Homo sapiens: one gene and its partners. Each later gene encodes a partner of the first gene's protein in a complex. Each region holds a gene or a part of one and is shown in the gene's direction. Other genes may lie near its edges.

Region 1 (7,631 bases):
GCCTGGCCAACATGGTGAAACCCCCGTCTCCACAAAAATACAAAAAATTAGCCGGGCGTCTTGGTGCGCATCGGTAGTCCCAGCTACTTGGGAGGCTGAGGCAGGAGAATCACTTAAACTGGGAGGCAGAGGTTGTAATGAGCTGAGATTGAGCCACTGCACTCTTCACTCTAGCCTAAGTGACAGAGCAAGACTCTGTCTCAAAAAAAAAAAAAAAAAAAGACGGGTATCAAGAGTTACCTTCGGGCTGGGCACGGCGGCTGATGCCTGTAATCCCAGCACTAGGGGAGGCCAAGCCACATACAGAGACATTGTGGTTGTTCAACTCGTTCATTTATTCACTCTCTGAGCTTACAAAATGCTTTTTTGTGGATCACCTGAGGTCAGGAGTTGGGACCAGCCTGGCCAACATGGTGAAACCCCATCTCTACTAAAAATACAAAAATTAGCTGGGCGTGGTGGTACACATCTGTAATCCCAGCTACTCAGGAGGCTGAAGCAGGAAAACCCCTTGAACCCAGGAGGCGGGGGTTGCAGTGAGCTGAGATTGCGCCACTGCACTCCAGACTGGGTGAGAGAGCGAGGCTCCATCTCAAAAAAATAAAAAAAGTTACTTTCGGCCACATGTGGTGATTCACACCTGTAATCTCAGCACTTTGGGAAGCCAAGGCGGGCAGATCACTTGAGCCCAGAAATTTGAGACCAGCCTGGGCAACATGGTGAGACCCTGTCTCTACAAAGAATACAAAAATTAGCTGGGCATCGTGATGTGCACCTGTAGTCCTAGCTACTTGGGAGGCTGAGGTGGGAGGATCACCTGAGCCCCATGATCACGCCATTGCACTCCAACCTGGGCAACAGGTAAGACCCTGTCTCAAAAAACAACAATGAAAACCACTACCTTCATAGCATTGTCATGAAGATAAATAACACATAAATGCAATGGAGTACAAAACCCAGAGTCTAGTTGACTGGAATAAGTGCTTTAAAAAAAATAGCTATTATTGGCCGGGTATGGTGGCTTACACCTGTAATCCCAGGACTTTGGGAGGCCGAGGCAGGCAGATCACAAGGTCAGGAGATCGAGACCATCCTGGCTACCACAGTGAAACCCCATCTCTACTAAAAATACAAAAATTAGCCGGGCGTGGTGGCACGCACCTGTAGTCCCAGCTACTTGGGAGGCTGAGGCAGGAGAATCACTTGAACCCGGGGGGTGGAGGTTGCAGTGAGCCAAGATCATGCCACTGTACTCCAGCCTGGGTGACAGAGTGAGACTCCATCTAAAAAAAAAAAAAAAAAAAGCTATCATTAACAATTGCCATTAATAGTTGATCACTTTATGCAATTTAATTTTATTTATTTTTTTAGTAGAGACAGGGTTTCACCATGTTAGCCAGGATGGTCTTGATCTCCTGACCTCGTGATCCACCTGCCTCGGCCTCCCAAAGTGCTGGGATTACAGGCGTGAGCCACTGCGCCTGGCCGCAATTTACTTCATTGAATCTCCAACAAGAGTCCTGTGAGGTAAGCACTATCGTTATCACTGTTTAGAGTTTCAGAGGGGTTTAGAGGCTTCCCAAGATCACACAATACATAAATAGCAGAACCAAGCTTCAAAACCAGGTCTGTTTGTCTCCAGAATCCTTGCTCTTTATCAAGCCACGTACAGAGACATTGTGGTTGTTCAACTCATTCATTTATTCACTCTCTGAGCTTACAAAATGCTTAAGAAGTGGCAAGACAATTCTTCCCTTCAAGAAACTTAGAGTCTAATGGGAAAGGCAGGTTATGTCCACAAATAACTACACCTCAAAGTAGAAAATGATGATTTTTGTCAATAAGGGCCAGTTAGAGATTAATTTATTCATATAACACGTACTGAGAGCTGCTGTGGGCTGGGCCCTCTGCCAAGCACTGGGTATAATTCAAAGATAAATATGGCACAGTCTAGTCATAATCTAATGGGAGAGACAGGTATGTAAAGAAATTATTATAGTTATAAGGAATTAAGTTATGATTTTAAAATATGACAAAATACAGAGTGGAAGAAACAAACTGTGTTGGGATAGGGGGCAGAGGCAGAGACTGAATAAACTTTCAGCTGCCAAAAAATGTAAAAGAGCACAGAAAATGTGTGATGGCAGCTCAGGGGGAGTGTGCATTTTCTGGAGGATGCAAGAAGGCTTCATGGAGGAGGTGGCACGTGGGTTGGCACTTGTTTGATGGGTAGCTTTTAGTAGAGGGTTGAACCAGAGAGAGCCTGGAGGCCTAGAAGCCAGTTATAGGGGAGAATCATAGCGAGGCAAGCAATGAGGAGGACAGGGCAGTGACAGAGGTGGTGAGGAGGGAGTGAAGGGAGGGATGCCAGAGAGGACTGGTTCAGTGGGAACAAGTCTGTTTTTAATTTTTTTATTTTATTAATATTATTTATTTACTTATTTTGTGTGTGTGTGATGGACTCTAGCTCTGTCACCTAGGCTGGAGTGCAGTGGTGCGATCTCGGCTCACTGCAACCTTTGCCTCCACACCCGGCTAATTTTTTGTATTTTTGGTAGAGATGCCTGCAATCCCAGCACTTTGAGAGGCCAAGGTGGGTGGATCACTTGAGGTCAGGAGCTCGAGACCAGACTGGCCAACATGGTGAAACTCCGTCTCTACTAAAAATACAAAAAATAGATAGGCATGGTGGTGTGCACCTGTAGTCCCAGCTACTCGAGAGGCTGAGGCAGGAGAATCGTTTGAACCCAGGAGGTGGAGATTACAGTGAGCCAAGATCGCACCACTGCACTCCAGCCTAGGTGACAGAGTGAGACTCTGTCTCAAAAAAAAAAAAAAAAAAAAAAAAAAGAAGGAAGCCTATCTGACTATTGCTTCTCCCCCGCCATCCTTCTTACAGCGTGAAAAGTGTTGTTGTAGAGAAATGTACAGAAGGGGTAACTGGCTCTGTCTGGGGACGAGGAAAGGCTTCCCGAAGGAGGTAAATTTTCAGCTAAACTTCTCAGGATGTAGAGTGCTTCCTCCAGTTGTGGGAGAGAGAGAGGAGGATATTTCAGGTGAAGCGAACAGCTTTCCCCGCTGACCCTGTGTTAAGTTGCCCAGGGGCTCTACGGCGAAGGTTCCCCAGAGGAAGGGATCTTCCATACTTCAATGAGGCACTTTAAGAAACCCTTGAGTTCAGCTGGAATTCAGACCTTCCAGAGCTACCAGAAAAACATCATGTGGGAAATTGTGCCCGGCGCGGTGGCTCACGCCTGTAATCCCAGCACTTTGGGAGGCCGAGGCGGGCGGATCACGAGGTCAGGAGATCGAGACCATCCTGGCTAACATGGTGAAACCCCATCTCTACTACAAACGTAAAAAATCAGCCAGGTGTGGTGGCAGGGGCCTGTAGTCCCAGCTACTGGGGAGGCTGAGGCAGGGGAATGGCGTGAACCTGGGAGGCAGAGATTGCAGTGAGCTGAGATCATGCCACTGCACTCGACAGAGCGAGACTCCGTCTCAAAAAAAAAAAAAAAAAAAGCGTCATGTGGGAAATGGCTTTTCCAGCCTCCTGTAGGGGCCGCTGCTGCCCCAGACTCAGCCAGTCTTGTCTAAGAAAACTCAGAGGACGTCTCTGCTGGGGTGGTGGTGGGGTACACCCTGGACCTGCCGCCATCCAAGGAGTGAACTTAAGGGCGACAGTGCCCCCAAGCCTGAAGAATATGCACTCAGTCAATGGCATTTGGGGGTAGGGAGGGGGTGTAGTGGGCACTGATATTTTTCAGTCTCTGGGTCACCACAAGTTTATTAAAATAAAAGAAAATGTGGGTAAATGCTGCCATCTGTGCTGTCCCTACTCCCAATACACACACACAGGCACACACACACACAGGCACACACACACACAGGCACATAAACACACACACACACACACACACACACACACACACACGCATAACAAATCAGGTCCCAGACTAGATGCAGGAGTTGAAACTGCTTTAAAAACACTCTAAGAACTTAACTACAAACCCACACTCCCCATGCTTCTGGGGCTTAAGATCTTTGAGCTCATTCTTCAGCATCTCTCCTCGGGAAAGTGGGGTGGGCTGCTCCATGAGGTGGAGGTGAAGACCCCTGAGTCTGCCCTGTGGAGGGGGAGGCCCCCTAAGCCTAGAGTCCCGCTGCAGGGCTCTGTGCCAGGAGCCCCCGTGAGCCATGGCCTCGAAAGGGCAGCGGTGATTTTTTTCACATAAATATATCGCACTTAAATGAGTTTAGACAGCATGACATCAGAGAGTAATTAAATTGGTTTGGGTTGGAATTCCGTTTCCAATTCCTGAGTTCAGGTTTGTAAAAGATTTTTCTGAGCACCTGCAGGCCTGTGAGTGTGTGTGTGTGTGTGTGTGTGTGTGTGTGTGAAGTATTTTCACTGGAAAGGATTCAAAACTAGGGGGAAAAAAAAACTGGAGCACACAGGCAGCATTACGCCATTCTTCCTTCTTGGAAAAATCCCTCAGCCTTATACAAGCCTCCTTCAAGCCCTCAGTCAGTTGTGCAGGAGAAAGGGGGCGGTCGGCTTTCTCCTTTCAAGAACGAGTTATTTTCAGCTGCTGACTGGAGACGGTGCACGTCTGGATACGAGAGCATTTCCACTATGGGACTGGATACAAACACACACCCGGCAGACTTCAAGAGTCTCAGACTGAGGAGAAAGCCTTTCCTTCTGCTGCTACTGCTGCTGCCGCTGCTTTTGAAAGTCCACTCCTTTCATGGTTTTTCCTGCCAAACCAGAGGCACCTTCGCTGCTGCCGCTGTTCTCTTTGGTGTCATTCAGCGGCTGGCCAGAGGATGAGACTCCCCAAACTCCTCACTTTCTTGCTTTGGTACCTGGCTTGGCTGGACCTGGAATTCATCTGCACTGTGTTGGGTGCCCCTGACTTGGGCCAGAGACCCCAGGGGACCAGGCCAGGATTGGCCAAAGCAGAGGCCAAGGAGAGGCCCCCCCTGGCCCGGAACGTCTTCAGGCCAGGGGGTCACAGCTATGGTGGGGGGGCCACCAATGCCAATGCCAGGGCAAAGGGAGGCACCGGGCAGACAGGAGGCCTGACACAGCCCAAGAAGGATGAACCCAAAAAGCTGCCCCCCAGACCGGGCGGCCCTGAACCCAAGCCAGGACACCCTCCCCAAACAAGGCAGGCTACAGCCCGGACTGTGACCCCAAAAGGACAGCTTCCCGGAGGCAAGGCACCCCCAAAAGCAGGATCTGTCCCCAGCTCCTTCCTGCTGAAGAAGGCCAGGGAGCCCGGGCCCCCACGAGAGCCCAAGGAGCCGTTTCGCCCACCCCCCATCACACCCCACGAGTACATGCTCTCGCTGTACAGGACGCTGTCCGATGCTGACAGAAAGGGAGGCAACAGCAGCGTGAAGTTGGAGGCTGGCCTGGCCAACACCATCACCAGCTTTATTGACAAAGGGCAAGGTGAGGGGGCGGGGTGGCAGGGGCACGGCTCAGAGGGAGGGGCATCTGCATGAATGGAGGGGCTTTCAAAGCCCTGGCACTGCCCTGGTGGGAGACACTGTGTGCATCTGGCCCGGGGTGGGTGTCTGGGGACACTGACACATATCTCACACATAGCAGATCCTAGGCTGCCCACACATCAGGGCTGGAGGGCACCTAGGAAGCACCAGGTCCAACGCCTGCAAGGTGCAGAGTGGGCACTAAAGCCTAGAGAAGAGACAAGACCTGCCAGTTCGTGGCAGAGTTGGAGACCAGATTCCGAGACTTGATTGCTCAGTTGTGCATCTGTACCTGCTGGGCTGGCCGAACTTTCCAAGCTTCACAGGTTTGTAGGCGGTCTCAGACGGCAGAGAAAGAAATGAATCTTGAGGTCCCCATGCTTCTGCAACTTTGCCCTCAGGCAAGGGGATAGAGGAGGCAAGAGAGGTGCACACAGTAAATGGGGCATCTTGGAGTCATGGAATGATGTTCAGATACATGGGGAGGGAGCAGACCCAGGGCCTAACTCGCAGTATGACCTTGGGAAAGCTCCTTCTCACTTGGGGTCTCCGTTTTCCCATCTGTACACCTATATGGGGTTGGACAGGGTGGTTTCTGAGAGCCCTTCCAACATGAAAACTTTAGATGCTGTCCTGAACATGCCTCATTCTCCTCATTAACTCCAGAGACTACCTGCTCCCCTCTGTCTCTCTCGGCCCACCTAATGTTACTGTTGCAGCTTTTCCTCTCCACTTGCTGTGTGATCTAAGCAAGTCCCTCCCCCTCTCAGGGCCTCAGTTTCTTCCTAGTGTGAAGAGGGAGGTGGGCTGTTGGTCGCTCAAGTTGCCTGCAGCTCATTTGCTCTGGTCCTAGGCTGGCAGGGTGGGGGAGGGGTCAGAGGGTGGGAGAGGCTCCTCATTAGAGCTGGCCTGGAGGGGGCTGCCAGGGGGCGGGGGAGGCACAGAGGCAGCAGGTCTGGCTGAGGTGGGGGAGGTGGTCTGGCTGCCTGCCCAGCCAGGGAAAGCTGTGACCCCTTGGGGGCTCATAAAATAAGTCCGTGTGCCCCCCAGCACTAAGGGAGCTTGGAGAGGGGGAGATGGGGAGTTTAAAGGCCTAATTAGTCACCTTCTAGAGCAATATATGAAAGCTCCCCAATGGCAAATTGCAATTTAGGAAGGAGGGCATGCTGATTCGGAGATACTACTGAGCTTCTCACATACACATACATAGCCTTATGTTTATACACACATGCTGAATCACACATGTACATGCATGCTGACTCACACACACACGTGCTGAATCACACACGTACACACATGCCGAATCACACACATATGCATGTGCACACACACCTTCTTACATACACACACAAGATCAATCATGCATATACAGACATATATGTGCTCTTCAAATAGTCACACAAGCCCAATCATTTATACATATAATGCGTCATTAACGTATACACTCTTTCATATTCACATATGAACCCAATCACACACATGCATACAACTGTAACACACACACATGCTCAGGAGAGTAAGACACATAGGCAACAAAATCCTTGCACTGGAAAGCCAGGAAAATTGGGCTGTAGGTCAGTGTGGACCAGCTTTGTCATTAACTTGCTGTGTGACCTTAGTCAAGTCACTCCCCATCTCTGTGCCTCATCTGCATAACAAGAGCACCAAGGTCTCCTTTAAGGGATGGTGGAAGCAGCTGAGAATTTGAGCAAGTCATCTAACTTCTCTGAACCTTGGGATTCTCCTCTGGAAAAGCGTGTATTTTTTTTTTTTTTTTTTTTTTTTTTTTTTTTTTTTTTTTTTTTTTTTAGCCAGGGTCTTTCTCTGTTGCCCAGGCCGGAGTGCAATAGCGAATTCACGGCTCACTGAAGCCTTGACCTCCCTGGGGTCAATCAATCCTCCCACCTCAGCCTCCTGAGTAGCTGGGACTACATGTGCACGCCACCATGCCTGGTTAATTTTTGTATTTTTTGTAGAGACAGAGTGTCACCATGTTGTGCAGGCTGGTTTCGAACTCCGGAGCTCAAGCAATCCACCCACCTCAGCCTCCCAAAGTGCTGGGATTGCAGGTGTGAGCCACTGTGCCCAGTCAACAGGAGTAATTTTAATGCTCACTCCACCTATCTCACAAA
Region 2 (7,901 bases), on another chromosome or scaffold:
AACACTTGGAAGACCCTTAAGGATCATTTACGGAGAGAAAGGTGTGCATTCTGCGGCTGCCGGCGGGCAGCTAGAGAACGTGGCGGGGGGCAGCGCATCTGGCGCCTTGGCCGGGGCGCGGAGTGGGAACAGCCCGCACGCGTCCGCTGCCGCCCTGCCTGGCGACGAGTGGCACAATCGCCCACCAGGAATCGGCTGGTGCCGCGGGTGGGCGAAGGCAGCGCCGCCGGCCCGGAGGGCGGCGCGGAGGGTGGCGCTGGCGGCGTGAAAGGCGTCTTTGTGCAAGATTGAGTGTGGTGGGGGGAAGGCGAAGAGAGAACTGATCCAGGACCTGGACGCGGGGGTCTGCGGCGCCCCTACGCCCCCACGCCCCCAGCCGTCCGCAGTGCCGGAATGAGCCGGATAGCGCCGGCAGGGGGCAGTGTGGCGATATAGGGGTTGCCGGGGGGAGAGGAGGGTCTCTGTTCACCTCTATTTGAGGCTGACTGGGGAGAAAGCTGCCTGGAGGAAGCTGCTGGGGTGCGGGGGGCTGAGGGATTTGGCTCCCCGCCCTCTCCCCTAGATGGCGGAGAAATCGGGCTAGCTGGAAGGGCGCAGCTCCTCTCCCAGAGCTCATTCTGGAGTCGGAGAACTGGGAGAGCGGCCCCCGAGGCGGAGCCTCCCTCCCGCCCCGAGTCGCGCTGCCCCCCACCTGGGGGAGAGGGGCGGGCGCCGCGCTGCCTTCCCTCCGCGCCTCGGCCGCGTGGCTTGCGGCTTATTTTCCCAGCTGGCAAGCGTCGCGCTGCAGACAAGGGAATGCCTGTGGTGAGTTGTTTATTTTGTTGAAGTTTGCGGTGGGCCCGGGGGACGTGGGGGGCGAGCGGCAGGCAGCGGCCGGGACTGTTTTGTTTAGGTCTCCATCCACCTGTGGGGTATAAATCTGCCAGCCTCAAGGCGGCGGGGGACCGGAGTGAGAAAGCTCTGACGCTCCCAAAAGCCCCTTTTCGCAACTTACAGATCTAGGACCACATTTGATTCTCCACGCCTGGAACCGGCTAGATCCTAGTTTACGCTCACCCCGCCCTCCAGCCTCCCATCAACGCTTCCCGCACCCGCTGTGTGCAGGGCTGGCGCTCCGCAGAGCAAACAGCGCCCACGACCCAGGGACAGCTGGCCACCGAAGTCCCTCCCCGGCGCCCTTCCCCGTTCCTTGAGGATAGGGGAGCTGAGGTTTTCATGTGAAGGGCGCCCATGAAATTCGTGGGAACTTGTTCTGGCGTCTTCTGGAGTGGAGTTCTTTCAGGGGTTTCGGGTCTGCCCGGGACTACAAAATGGGATCCTGGGTTGGCTGGAGTTTCCCAGACTAGGCTGGAGAGAGGTCGGCTGTTGGCTCGCGGGAGAGCCCAGAGGAACCCCTTGGGCGATGGCAGTCAAGACCGGCGGCTGCGTTTGCCTGGAAGAAAAGCCTAAATACATTAGCGAGCTGGTAAAGCTTTTAAGGCCTTCTTGGGAGCGAGTGGCTGGCTAATGAGAGGTTAATTTTGTTTCGAAGGGAAGGCTGCACTGGTTTCCTGAGATAAATGGACAGGAAGCGCATTACCTCCGCGCGCTGGCAAGCGGCTCCCAAATGCTTTTTGCACCTGCCGTTTTGAGCGGTGAGAGCAGCGGCGGAGCCCGCAGGGATTGCGGGGGCCCGTTGTCTACGAGCGGGTGATGAGCCCCCCGCAAGCCCCGGGCTCTCTCCCTCCGCGAGTGCATTGCTCACGCCAAGCTTTGGGACTCTTCTCTCACACCCAGGTCCTGCGTGTTCCGAAGTTCAGGGGCCCCCTGATCCCGCTGAGCCCCCTCCAGGAGCGAAAGGGTTAAGAATGATGTAAGTACAGGCACTTGATTTCTCAAGTCGCCCGCTTGGCCCTCTTCCAAGTTGTACTTTCCTTATTTTCTCTCCTTTCCTTTCCTTACTGTTCTAACGCTTTTTAATAAACTTTCACTCTTGCTCTGAAAAAAAAAATGATGTAAGTACAAACCACGAGCTGCTTGACGCTGAGCTGTTGGACTCCGGGCTATTTCAGCCGCTGCTTTGGGTACACAGTGGCCGGGGAGCAGCCGGGGAGCCCTTACTCTAGAAAGGATTGCACAAATCGCAAGCTTAGGTGATCTGTTAAGCAGTCAGAGATTCTCCTGTTAGATTTCTGGAAATGGAGACATATTAACTGGAGAACAGTTAAAAACATCACGTATAGGCTCAGGAAATGAAACTGCATCTTGTTTAGAATCCATTAGTGTTTCTGGCATGTGTTTTAATTCTGTCCACTTGCACGTTCATGCCGTAGTATGCTTTGCTGGATTCTCCGGATGTACTGTTCAGGTCTCCTCCTTCCTTTCTGAAAACAAAGAGAAAGGGAGAAAGAGTACCAGTGGCAAGAAACAGGGTGGATGTGTGAATTACACAAGTCATCAGCCACTTCATGATTTTTTTTCTGATTAAAACATAAAACTTTTATAAGTCACCGATTTTTTTGTTTGTGTTCTAGCTCCCTCCCCGATTTTTCTTTGTACAATATAAAGTCGTTTGTAACTTGCAGCTCACGGGCTTGAGGAGTGGCTGCGGTATAAGCGACTATTCACTACGCTCTTGCTTTCCAAGCCAATTCCTGATCTTGTGAACAGTACGAATTTACCCGCGAGTGTGTCAACTGACCTATGTCTTGAAAATAGGAACCACCTTGCGGTTTACTTGTGAAAATTAGCATTTTCCTCTAGCGGCTGAACACTTATGCAGCAATAAAAAGTGAATTGTTAGGCTTATAAATCTCGAGCTTGTCAAATTTTACAACAGAGGAGCAATAAAGCACCTTATAGAGATGAAGTTTTTCCTCTGAAGAACAGTTCCGTTTAACGACACCAGGATTTGCAATGACTCGAGGACGCCCTCTATTGATAGGAAAATCTAGAGCACCCGTGTACTTATGGAACAGGATATAGGGGGAGGGGAGTAAAAAATCATAGAAAGTCACGAGTGGAAAGACCCAAACCAAACAGAAATTATTGATCCTTAACTATTGAGTATATGCTTTGAAGTATGATCAATAAAGTGAGATGCTGCTTTTATAGGGGTCGAATTAAATCTTGGGTTAAGAGAAAAAAATGTAGTCTTTGTTAGCCAAATACTTTGAAAATCAGTATTATGTTTGATTACTTTTTTAAGATGCTTCTTAGTATGTCATGAACTGTATCTAATTATATGAAGTAATTGCAAGATAGTAAATTTTTGCTCTAATAATACTTAGTCCGCAGCATTATCTAAAAATGTCATATAACTTCCTCCCCAAAAGTCATTTCTCCAGGCAACTGTGAAGCTATTATTAAGCGTATTATGGATATACACAGGCTTGGATTATATTGTGGATAGTGAAAGGTGTGTTTACCCCTTAAGTCATCATAGTATGTAACAAGTAAGTAATGAAAAGTTACAGTAAAAACAGATAGGCATCCTTCATTAGGGACCTAGTGGTTTGGGCAATTCAAAATGTGTCTAATAAGTGAGCTGGTGAGACTGAAGGTTTGCCCCTCAATTATCCTAGTCCATTGATTAGCTCATTTAAACATGTGTGGAATATCAGCATGTCCGTGGTTGATAAGAAATTCCTAATTAGAGATTCTGAGTAACATAGCGGGTACAGTTGCCAACTACGATTTGGATGTTAGTGGATTTTAAATGGCAACCCTGTGCTGTTTGGGGAAAGGCAAAGGCGAGGGCGGTATCAAGTGTCTCTCAGCCTTGAGGTCATTCTTGAGATTAGATACCACTTCACACCTACCGATAACAAATTGGAATCTATCATCAGTCTCATAACTGCTTTTCTGTCTCCACTTGGCAGCCTCTTTCTTTGTAGACAATTGTCTTTTTCCTCACTTTCGGACCCATCCGATCATAAAAGGAGAAAGTGAGCTGCCATTGAATTAATCCGTAGAAATTTGTGGAAAATTTAAATAATCTGTAGAAATTTGTGAAAAAGCCACTGAGCAACAACAAATCGTGGCATAATTACACTGCATAAAAACCCACCACTCTCATTAATTACACTGTAACCGAACGTTGAAGTTTGCCCACTCTTAGACCTCTCCTTGCCGCTTTCAGGAAGGGAAATGTCAAACTAGAACACCTGAGCCTCGCACAGCTGCCAGCGAATTCCGGCGGCAGTTCGCGGGTACCTTCCCAGCCCATCCTATCTGCTCCGGACCGCGGGTGACATTCAGATTTCCAACACCGCCCCGAGCTTGCTTTACCAGACACCCTCAAACGACTCGGAACGCGGTTCCGCAGATGTGATTGGCTGAAAGGGGACCTGCCGCGCGGCGCTCTGTAAAAGCGCCTGCTTCCTCCAAGGAGGTGGAGCTGAAGCTGGCAGGGCCAGGGCAGGGAGGGGTAATTAAATTAAAAAAAAAACTTGGAGGGAAGATGAATCGGATCACATTAATTCAAGGAGAGGTCAAAGGCCGGTACCTTTGTAACGCCGGCGAGAGTAAGACTTGCGGTCGCCCATTTCTGTTGGGCGCGAGGAAACAGTAAATCGCGGAAGGGGGTAGAGGGGGAAGGAAAGGGAGCGCGAGGCAGCATGCGGCGCAGGAGAGAGGACTTGGAGTCGATGGACAGGGAACTCGAATTACACTGAGCGGGCGGGGGAGAGGGCCCTCTGGGTCCTGCGATTGGCAGGCTGAGTCGGGCTGACGTGCGGTCACAACCAATGGGGAGGAAGGGAGGGACACGGCGGGGGATTATGGCGTCGTGGATTGGCGGGCACAGGGCGGGGCGGGACGGCAGTGCGGGACTGAGATTGATCGACCGCGGGGGCTGCCGCGCAGAGATATCCGGGCCGCCGGTGGGTGGTCGCTAGGGCTGGGCCAGCCTCTTGGAGGTCCACGCCCGCCGAGCCCACGCTGGCTGGGGCCGGGGTGCCGGCGCGCTCGGGACTCGTCTCAGCAGTCGCTCACGGTCTTTGTGTCTTCTCTTCCGCCCCTTTCCCTGCCTGCCGCCTCCGGCCGCCACGATGCCCCTGCGCCCCGCTGCTGCCGCCGCGGACTGGCTGCGCCGGCTGCGCGCTGCTTGCTGCGGCGGTGGTGGCGCCCCATCTGCTACACGGGCCTGAAGAAGGAAGAAGAGGAAGCGAAGCGCGCCCCCCGGCCCATGCCGCAGCCACGGGCCCAGACCCGCCACGGCGCCCGCGCCGCCGCCCTCGCCGGAGCCCACGAGACCTGCATGGACGGGCATGGGCTTGAGAGCAGCACCTTCCAGCGCCGCCGCTGCCGCCGCCGAGGTTGAGCAGCGCCGCAGCCCCGGGCTCTGCCCCCCGCCGCTGGAGCTGCTGCTGCTGCTGCTGTTCAGCCTCGGGCTGCTCCACGCAGGTAGGACGGGAGCGCGCGAGGGGAGCCAGCCCCGGGGCCTAGGGCTTTGTTCCCAAATAGCCCCAGGTCTCGAAGGCGCTCGCCGGGGCGGAAGGGCGGCGTGGCGCAACGGGAAAGGCCTCCCGAGCCCCTGACACGCACCTCTGTCGGGCTCCGGGCCACAGTAACGCAGCCACCCACCGGGCGGCCGCCGGGCGCAGAGACGAGCCTTCTCTCCACCCTCCCCGCCTTCGGCTCGGACCGCTGACAAATCTCCCCTCCGACAGCCGCTTATCAAACATTTAGCGGGCGGGGGCCGCGCGCCCGAGACAAATGTTCCGGATGCTTTATTGCTCTCTGCGCTGGTGTTTACTGAAAGTCAGGCTCGGATCAGGTTTCCGCCGTCGCAGCCGCCTCGGAGGGAGACAAGGAGCCTTGTGCTGCTTTTCTGGAGTTGGGGGTGGCGGCGAGGCGAAGGAAGTACACCAGATGGAAAGATTTTTACCAGATTTTGCAAACCTGGGAGTTAATCTCGAAGTAACGTCAACTTTTTTGAGCAGGGATTTCTTTCGTTTTGGCAAAAGCTGCGTTTGTTCAGCGATCAGCCTCCCGGGAAAAGCTCGTGTTTTGTGACTAGCCGGGTGTCTTCGGGCTCCGTGAGGGGTTGACAGATAACCATGCTGCCTTCTGGAGGTCGGCGCTTCCCCAGCCTTGAGGCGTATGTTCCAAGGGAAGTAAGCCTGCAAATGAGCCTTCTACCATGTGATACCTATTTTTCTTTTTAAAAAATCGTTTCATGAAAATCCAGGACGCTCTTCACACTATTTTTTTCTAGGAATTTGCCTAGACAAAGAATTTTTTTTAATGCTAAGGTTGAAAGGGTCATTTTCCTTTAGTCTTGAGAACAAACAGCATTAGATAAGTTTCTTTTCCTTCCAGACCTTTTTTGTCCTGTATATATGAGACACTTCACAACGTTCTGGTCTGGAGAATCCTGAACTTCGATGCCACCCAACTGTGCGGAGTAATTTTTACTTATTAAACCATACCCGCCATGCTAAAAATCAGGGAGGTCTTTTAAGTAATGGGGGGGAAAATGTGACATCTGAGGAGACTTAATTTACTTTGCGTAGCTTTGCATTATGATGTAATAGCTGCTTTTTAACACCGACAATTAGGGAAAAGACGGCTTAATAAAAAAGTGTAATAGAAAGTTTTAGGATGATTACGGCTTTCAATTAGTAACCTAAGAACCTTAGAAAATAGTGTCAATCTGCATGTAGTTACGTGGAAAATTTTTCTTGACATGTTAAAAGATATATTCAGGAGTGTTTGTGCGAAAAATATGTGTCCATAATACCAAAATGTAAGTTTCATGAAATGGAAATTGTGCTAGGTGGGATTGTGTCCCCCTTGGCTGCTTGGATATTGTTTCCCATAGTTGCCATAGGATCCTGTGACAGAATTGGAATGTGGTCCCTGAAGGTTTCTTTGCTAGCCCGTGAAAGGCATACTAAGTTGGCTTAAAGGTTTAGAAAAGTAGGGTGTCTTCGTTCAAGAATTTGGAATGTGAAGCTCCCAGTATCTTCATGTGTCCTCATTTAAGTCACCATTAGATTCAGCCCAACAATGTGGTAAGCGATTTCTATGGACAACTTGTTGGAGTGAAGCGATTAATCCTGTTAAAGAAAAGAACGCTCCTTTTGAGAGATTTCTTTGAAGAGTGGTGCTATTTAAATGCCCGGGTTGTTTCTCAGATAAGGGAACCCAGCAAGAGTGCCAGTGCTCTTTGCAGATGGACTACTATATGTTTTATGCCTGGATCCTTATCATCTGCCTCAGCACCCCATATGGCTCCACATTTCACTTAATTCAGCTTCAGAATACCTCATTTCTTTTATTATAAACTGGTGATTGTGCTGCAGATTCACACGTGTAGTCCTGGTGTTAAAGAAACTGTCTTGAATGGTGAGGTCTTTATGTCTGATTCATTCAAAAATGATGAAATGAAAGCTCTAGACCCACAAATGCTTTAGCATGTTCAGTAACTGGTGTGAAAATACTGTCACACTGATCACAGATAATCTGACCCAAAAATAGAGAAATCTGTAGCTGCAGAGTTTTAATTCTGCCCTTGGGGAATGAAAAGAGTATGAAAAGAGTACCTTTAGTTGCTTTATTTTATTTTATTTTTTTTAAGCAAACCTCTGCAATTCCTGAATAGAGATCCAATATGGGAGTTACTTGCTTACTCATACACTTCATGGCCTTCTTGGCTACATCCTTGAGATTGTTTCTGCTCCGCATTGTCTTGGCATTTTGACAGGAGGCTTACTTTACCGCCTATAACAGGCAAAGTGTGCGTTGTCGTTATAAATTCATGAAGCCTGGATATTTCTGGGTGTATGCTACAAATTAGTCATTATATAGAAGCCCACAAGGCAGCTGAAAATGCTGACCCAATCGCACTTTCTATTTAGCCCTCTTCGCTCCCATCATCTCTGTAGCAGAAGGCTGTTGGAAGCCTTAGCCAAAGC
Region 3 (7,102 bases), on another chromosome or scaffold:
TTTTAATTCGTCTACATTTTAAGTCACATGTGGCTAGTGGCTACCATATGGGACAGCACAGTTGTAGACATGCCACCTTTTCCCTAGTTCTTGCTTCCTTGTACTTGACTTTCCTTCTGCTGATGTCTTCCTGGTTTCTATTTAATTAATGATGCAGACTGTTGTTGCAGAATTCATTAGGCTACCATTGCTGATTATCTCATATGTATAGTGCATCAGTAGCCCATTGGTCTCACCAACCGTTTGCCATCTGAGTTCTGTTGTAGACATTCTATCTTAAGGTTGCGGCAGAGGGCATTTATTTGCTGTAGAAAAAGGAAGCCAATAAATTATTGGGAAAATATGAAAAATTACTTAGCCAGGAATAAAAATCTAGTAAAATCATTGATGCCAAAAATTGCTGTTGATGACAAGGACCTGTAAATGTGCCTGTGTATGGTCATGTGTCTCTTGTAACTGTTTGTCTCTTTGTATGTATATGTTTTCATTTTTTCCTGAGATGTTATACTTAAACATGTAAGCTATTAAATATTTTGTGTGTGTTTGTTTTGAAATATAACCTATACCCCCAGTCCACCCCAGGGCTCGTAGTTTATTCTTTGTAAATACACGGGACTTGTGGGTGGCGAGAGATTGACATGTTCAGAACTGACAGAAGGCCATGTGCCAAGTAAAGTGATGATGGTGAGGCCTGCAGGACCCAGATCCTGTTGGGCCCTGGGAGCACACAGTGGAGGTTGGATTTTATTCTGAGTGCATTGTGGAGCCATTGATTGGTTTTATATAGGAGTGACAGATTTGTGTTTATAAAATGTCTCTGGCTGCTCTGTGGAAAATGGATTGCAGGGACCAAGAGCAGAAGCAGAGGGAACAGTTGGAGACTTCTTACCTTAGTAGAGGCATGATGTGATGGGCCTTGGTGACAACAGCGGAGTTGGAGAAAAATGAAAACAATTGACATACATTTTGGAGGTTGAGCCAAAAGACTTTGGTAAGACCAGGTTTGAGGCAAATCAAGAGTTCATTTAAGACAAGTCAGTCAGGAGATGTCTAAGCAGGTCATGGCTAGAGGGGGTACATCCAGGAACCATCAACAGAGTGGGCGCTGTCCCCTAGGGAGAGCACAGAGAGGCTCTTTCCTGTTACTTTTCTTTGTATTCAATATCTGCTTGGTGAAATCTTGCAAGTTTTTAAGATGTAGCTTAGATTTCATTACTTTTGACACCTAAGATCAGTTTGAGTTTGACACCTAGGATGAGCCTTTTCCTTTGTTTACATGTAAACACCTCCGTATTTTGTCACTTTTTTTTTTTTTTTTTTTTGAGATGGATTTTCGCTCTTGTCGCCCAGGCTGAAGTGCAATGGCTTGATCTCTGTTCACTGCAACCTCCACCTCCCAGGTCAAGTGATTGTCCTGCCTCAGCCACCTGAATACTGGGATTACAGGCGCCTTGCCACCACGCCCAGCTAATTTTTTAATATTTTTAGTAGAGACGGGGTTTCACCATGTTGACCAGGCTGGTCTTGAACTCCTGACCTCAGGTGATGTGCCCACTTTGGCCTCCCAAAGTGCTGGGATTACAGGCGTGAGCCACCGCGCCTGGCCTTTGTATTTTGTCACTTTTCACATTGTATTTATTTGCTTTTGTGCTTATTCCCCCTCTGCTTTCCACCAAGTTTCTCAAGGCCACATATGTGGTTTTGATGCCACATCTTTGCGTTTCTAGCATTTAATACCTTGCCTGCACATAATAGACCCCTACTAAGTATTCTGTTGAATATTTGGCAATAACATAAGCTCCAGATACAACTACTGTAATTGAGTTTTTTGTCTCATGAATTCAAATAGTATTCTAGGAAGTTTCATATAACTTTGAGTTTTTTCATGTATCAGTGATCTTTTAGTGTTCTGATCTTTGTTATTAGTAACATCTTCATTTGTATACTATTTTACATGTAGTTAAGCACTTTAGTAAATATTCATTTGATCTACCTATAACCTCTTGATTTGAATTAGGCAGGAATTATTATCCCCATTTTCTATAGATAGCTGAGGTTCAGAGAGTAACTTATCTGTGCCCGTAACTGCGACTTGAACCCTTCACTTCTTGCTGTTATCTCAAGTGATATTTCTGCCACACTAAACTGCTTTTTCTGTGTCACTAGATTTTTGAAAAATCAGTTGCTGTGATATATTATATACTGTTTGTTTTCCAGAGCTGAATTGATACGTGTCTTCTGTTAATGTAATAGGATTTTAAAGCTGGTCAGGTTCCCTCACCTGTCCTCTAGTCCTGTAGCCTTATAGAGTAAATGAAGCCTGGAAAGGTGACATGGCTTGCCCAAGACCATCCAGCTAGGTAAAGCGGGGTAGGCCCATGGCAAAACAGAATCCCAGTCTCCTCATTTCCTGCTCAGTGGATTTCTTCCCTTCCTGTACCTCCTGCTTCCCCCACCCCATCTTTTACAGTTGATGTTTCTAACATAAAGGAGGTCTTTCCGCTTTGTAGCAATCAGATCCAACGGAAGCCTTGACATTATATTACGGAATTTATTTCTGAAAGGAGAGTGGTGTGGGGGGCGCGGGGATGAGTAATATATGTATGTACACAAACTTCCAGCTTTTTTTTTTTTTTTTTAAGTGTTTTCTCTCCTGGCCGGGCACGGTGGCTCATGCCTGTAATCCCAGCACTTTGGGAGACTGAGGCAAGTGGATCACTTGAGGTCAGGAGTTTGAGACCAGCCTGGCCAACATGGTGAAACCCTGTCTCTACCAACAAAATACAAAAAAATTAGCTAGGCGTTGTGTGGGGTGCCTGTAATCCCAGCTACTCGGGAGTCTGAGGCAGGAGAATTGCTTGAACCTGGGAGGCGGAGGTTGCAGTGAGTCGAGATTGCACCAGTGCACTCCAGCTTGGGTGACAGAGTGAGACTCTATCTCAAATAAAAATGTTCTCTATACTCATTCAGTAGCAAATTCTTTTACTAAATATTCGGTATAAGAAAGTGAAGGTTATTGGCCAGGCATAGTGGCTCACGGCTATATTCCCAGCACTTCGGGAGGCTGAGGCGGGAGGATCGCTTGAGCCCAGGAGTTCAAGACCAACCTGAGCAGTATAGGGAGACCTTGTCCCTACAAAGAATTTAAAAATTAGCCGGGCATGGTGGCATGTGCCCTTGGTCCCAGCTACTCCAGAGGCTGAGGTGGGAGGATCACTTGAGCCTGGGAGGTTGAGGCTGCAGTGAGCTCTGATCACATCACTGTACTCCAGCCTGGGCAATAGCGTGAGACCATGTCTCAAAAAAAAAAAAAAAAAAAGTGAAAATTATTGAAACTGAAGGCATGTAATCATCAAAACACTATTTAGCAGCACTTTTTCTGTTACCTGTGTGTGCATATGTGATATTTTTTGTCTTTTCAGTAGTTTATCTCATCAGTATGGTAAATGTAAAATCAAGTCTGTGTTGTGTCTTGAACCACTTATTTAACATTCATAATGAAATACATATACACTTGTCTGTTTGGTTCCACCTTTCATTCCCTTGAGAGTAACCCACAAAGAATGGCCTAGCTGAGTCAGAGAGAGGAAGTAATTACTAGAACAGTTTTTTTAGTTCCGTTCTGCTTCCAGCCTGAAAGATTTAGTACCAAATATGACAGTATCTGTCACTGCAGGCTGCTAGACTCTAGTGTAAGAACATAGTTCTATTTCTGTGAGCTAACTGCTGCCCTTCTATAACCTTCAGTTTCTGCCAGCATCGTCTGCATTCAAACCAATGACCTCGAGGTGAAAATCTCCAGATAACATGATTGGTCCCCATGCTCTCATGATTTCCTTACTTAAGCAATTAAAGGCCAAAGCAAGATGCTTAGTAACTCCTTTTCCACATAGAGGCACAAATAAAGGAAAGCTGGTCACAAGTTTTGAACCAAAGAGTTAAAAGAAGAATCATAACTTGTCTCTATTTAATGATTGGAAACTCTCACAGACTTCTGTGAAGTCTCTCCCCCTTTTGTACCTTTCTTACAAGTGATGACTATATACTTTTACCTGGCAGGGGAGAGACCACGGTCACGAAGGTGGTTTTCCCAGGGCGAGGCTTATTCATTGCACTCCAGATGTGCTGACCCCTGCGATTTCCCCAAATGTGGGAAACTCAACTGCATAATTGTGGTGGTGGGGGACTGCGTTCATGCTTTTCCCTGGTTAAATTAAAAAATTTTTAAGTTATTTTAAAAATATAAAAAACAAGATTTGACTGTATTCTGCCTTGCGCCACTCTTGTTTGTCTTTCACTAGTGCAAAAATTGTGATATAGCTGTCTTCATGTACCCCGCAATACCTGGTGCAGTAATTCTGTGCATAATAATGTATGTCTGTTTGTTGTATGAATGAAATTTATATTTCTAAAGAAACATGCTAGCTACAATTATTGTGATAAGAAAGCTTAACAACTTTTTCTCATTGAAAATTGTCACGAAACAATGAGCTTTTCAGAAATGATTTACTTACAAATTCCATATTTGAATGCAGGACAGAATCTGGATAGTATGCTTCATGGCACTGGGATGAAATCAGACTCCGACCAGAAAAAGTCAGAAAATGGAGTAACCTTAGCACCAGAGGATACCTTGCCTTTTTTAAAGTGCTATTGCTCAGGGCACTGTCCAGATGATGCTATTAATAACACATGCATGTAAGTATTTTATGCAGCCCTTCTTAAGAGTTAGGAGAATAGAGTTGCATTTAGTGCTATTTTAAGAATTATTAAACTTGTCTGCGGTTTTTTTTTCATTCATATATAGTATCTTTCCAGAAAGCCAAAAAGCCTTTTGTTTTGTATATTAGAACATTATTCCATTAAATGATTGATAGGTGAGTTACTATATTAGAATTATGTTATAATGCAGCTTTTAAAATAAGATCAAAGGGATCTAGTATTTAACATCTGAGTTTTTAATGATCTTTTAATCTTAAATTTATTGATGCTCATTTTAGAAAACTTAGAGGTTACCAAAAAAGAAATCAGAAAACTCACTGACAACCTCCTACTTCTTTTTAATTTAAAAAAAAATTTTTTTTTTAACTATAGACAGGATCTTGCTATGTTGCCCAGGCTGGTCTCAAACTCCTGGGCTCAAGCAGTCCTTCCACCTCAGCCTCCCAAAGTGCTGGGATTACTAGGGTGAGCTGCCACACCTGGCCTCCTACTTCTTAATTAGTTGAAATATTTTGCAGATATATATAAATCATATTGTGTTAATTAATTTTATGCTTTTTTCTTACCTGTGAATTTACCAATCCAAATCTGATTTATAAAATGATTTTAATTTTTCTAGTGTATTTCGTGTTAGCTGCACAACATGTTTATATATGATCATGTAATTCTAGTCCATATTTGTTGGAAACATTGACATATTGACTTAATAAGACCAAAAAAAATTGCCTGAACAACTCAACCTCATCAGTCAATTAATTGTCTCCTTGTTATAGAGGCAATAATGAATGTCATGTTTTATACTTTTAATAATTGTATGTTCCCTGAATGGACCAGATAGAAAGCATGAAACTTTACACGTAAACTCTTGAACCTGCATGACGGTCATCGTGTCTTAGGTTTGCTGCTTGTCCCCTGGTGGTGGTGGGCTCTGCGTGGCTGACTGTGACTAGTTGTTCATTTTTACCTTGGTGAGAGTTTGCCAGCAGGGAACTGCTCTCTGCTATGTCACCAAATAATGTTTTGCTAAACTTCTTGTCTGTAGTACCTGCCTGATGTAATGGGCTGTCTGTTAGTAGCTTAGTAACCCAGAGTAAAACTGAATCATCCATTTTAACAGAATTCTGCCCCACACTTAACATTTTCTCCTAACAGAAAACCAAGAATTCTGCAAAATTCTTCTAAGTAGAAGCAGCACAATTCCTGATATTAACAATAAATAGGAGTACAGAAAAAGCTTTTAGAAATTTCTCCCATACCTGTTAAAGTCTATATGAATATATTAAGGGGAAACTCCAGGATGCTAACACTAAAATAAGAATTTCATTATATATGTATGTAAATTTATTGAAAATTTATTCAAAAGTCCTCTCCCTGTTTTCCCATCATATTCAGTAAAAGGTGCCTTTTAGTCCCCTTTTTTTTGGTCATTAAGCCTATTTGTATGTTTCAGAGAAAAGTTTGTTTTTATCTATTATCATATACAATATGGAAGTACTGAAAAAATGGGTAAAAAGAGACAAAGTTATTTTAAAGTATGTTTTCAAAACATGACATAAAATTTTATAAATCAGCTTTCTGTGATCACATGACTGATTAGCAAAGAGAAGTCACATAACTCCTATGTGGAGGACTTGTTTAATTGAAATCCTTTTCTTCTTGACAAAGGGTTGTCACTGGCCTTTTAGATCTTGGCTCAGACATAACTTTCATTTGTCTTAAAACCTCTGGCGTTGCCAATAAATCACGTGTGAATGCAATTCTAAGTCACAAAACAAAGTATTAAAGGCCATCTGTACCTGTTCACATTCAGACTCAAATTTCGTTAGTACTTTCTATGTGAATTTATGTTTTGTTTTGTTTTGTTTTTTTCTGTTTTAGAACTAATGGACATTGCTTTGCCATCATAGAAGAAGATGACCAGGGAGAAACCACATTAGCTTCAGGGTGTATGAAATATGAAGGATCTGATTTTCAGTGCAAAGTAAGATATAATTTGGGACCCATGAGACAAAGAAGGGAGGGGCCATATGAAAGCATCGATTTCCCCCAGGAGAAACATGCCTGGTGTACACATCGCTGTATGTTCACATCAGTAAATATATTGGAGGAATACCTACTGTCTAGATTCTGTCCTGTATTCATATGTAGAATTTATAACTAAATCATTTCTGAAAAGCTAATTGTTTGATTACAATTTCCTTTTTTATTTCCATAGACAGCACCTGGCTCTGTTGCCCAGGCTGGAGTGCAGTGCTGCGATCTCCGCTCACTGCAACCTCAAGCCAGCCTCCTGCCTCAGCCTTCTGAATAGCTGAGACTACAGGTGCATGCCACTATACCTGGCTAATTTTTGTATTTTTTGTAGAGACAAGGTTTTACC

What was found.
Region 2: the proteins of GDF5 (region 1) and RGMB are in contact, whole or in part, in a crystal structure (PDB 6Z3J), measured with the Homo sapiens proteins. Residues at the interface, in NP_000548.2 of Homo sapiens: Leu396, Arg399, Phe435, Pro436, Leu437, Arg438, Ser439, Asn445, Val448, Ile449, Leu452, Ser455, Met456; in NP_001353437.1 of Homo sapiens: Gln57, Thr60, Phe63, Val64, Thr67, Ser68, Leu70, Asn71, Tyr88, Leu103, Val104, Ser107, Ala108, Leu110, Gly111, Ile112, Asp114, Leu115, Gln118.
Region 3: the proteins of GDF5 (region 1) and BMPR1A are in contact, whole or in part, in a crystal structure (PDB 3QB4), measured with the Homo sapiens proteins. Residues at the interface, in NP_000548.2 of Homo sapiens: Arg399, Phe435, Pro436, Leu437, Ser439, His440, Glu442, Pro443, Asn445, Val448, Ile449, Leu452, Ser455, Met456, Pro458; in NP_001393490.1 of Homo sapiens: Gly65, His66, Cys67, Pro68, Ile77, Thr78, Phe83, Ile85, Glu87, Cys100, Met101, Lys102, Glu104, Gly105, Phe108, Gln109, Asp112, Ser113, Lys115, Ala116, Gln117, Arg120, Ile122.

What each region holds. Positions count from the first base shown.
Region 1 is NC_000020.11:35,435,128-35,442,758, reverse strand, and holds the start of GDF5 (growth/differentiation factor 5 preproprotein), read left to right. Parts: upstream 1-4,530; 5' UTR 4,531-4,830; coding exon 4,831-5,461; intron 5,462-7,631. UniProt on the Homo sapiens protein: Growth factor involved in bone and cartilage formation. During cartilage development regulates differentiation of chondrogenic tissue through two pathways.
Region 2 is NC_000005.10:98,768,822-98,776,722, forward strand, and holds the start of RGMB (repulsive guidance molecule B isoform 1 precursor), read left to right. Parts: upstream 1-4,841; 5' UTR 4,842-5,131; coding exon of another isoform or gene 5,132-5,249; coding exon 5,250-5,385; exon of another isoform or gene 5,386-6,368; coding exon of another isoform or gene 6,369-6,381; intron 6,382-7,901. UniProt on the Homo sapiens protein: Member of the repulsive guidance molecule (RGM) family that contributes to the patterning of the developing nervous system. Acts as a bone morphogenetic protein (BMP) coreceptor that potentiates BMP signaling. Promotes neuronal adhesion.
Region 3 is NC_000010.11:86,885,527-86,892,628, forward strand, and holds part of BMPR1A (bone morphogenetic protein receptor type-1A isoform 3 precursor), read left to right. Parts: intron 1-4,535; coding exon 4,536-4,698; intron 4,699-6,600; coding exon 6,601-6,703; intron 6,704-7,102. UniProt on the Homo sapiens protein: On ligand binding, forms a receptor complex consisting of two type II and two type I transmembrane serine/threonine kinases.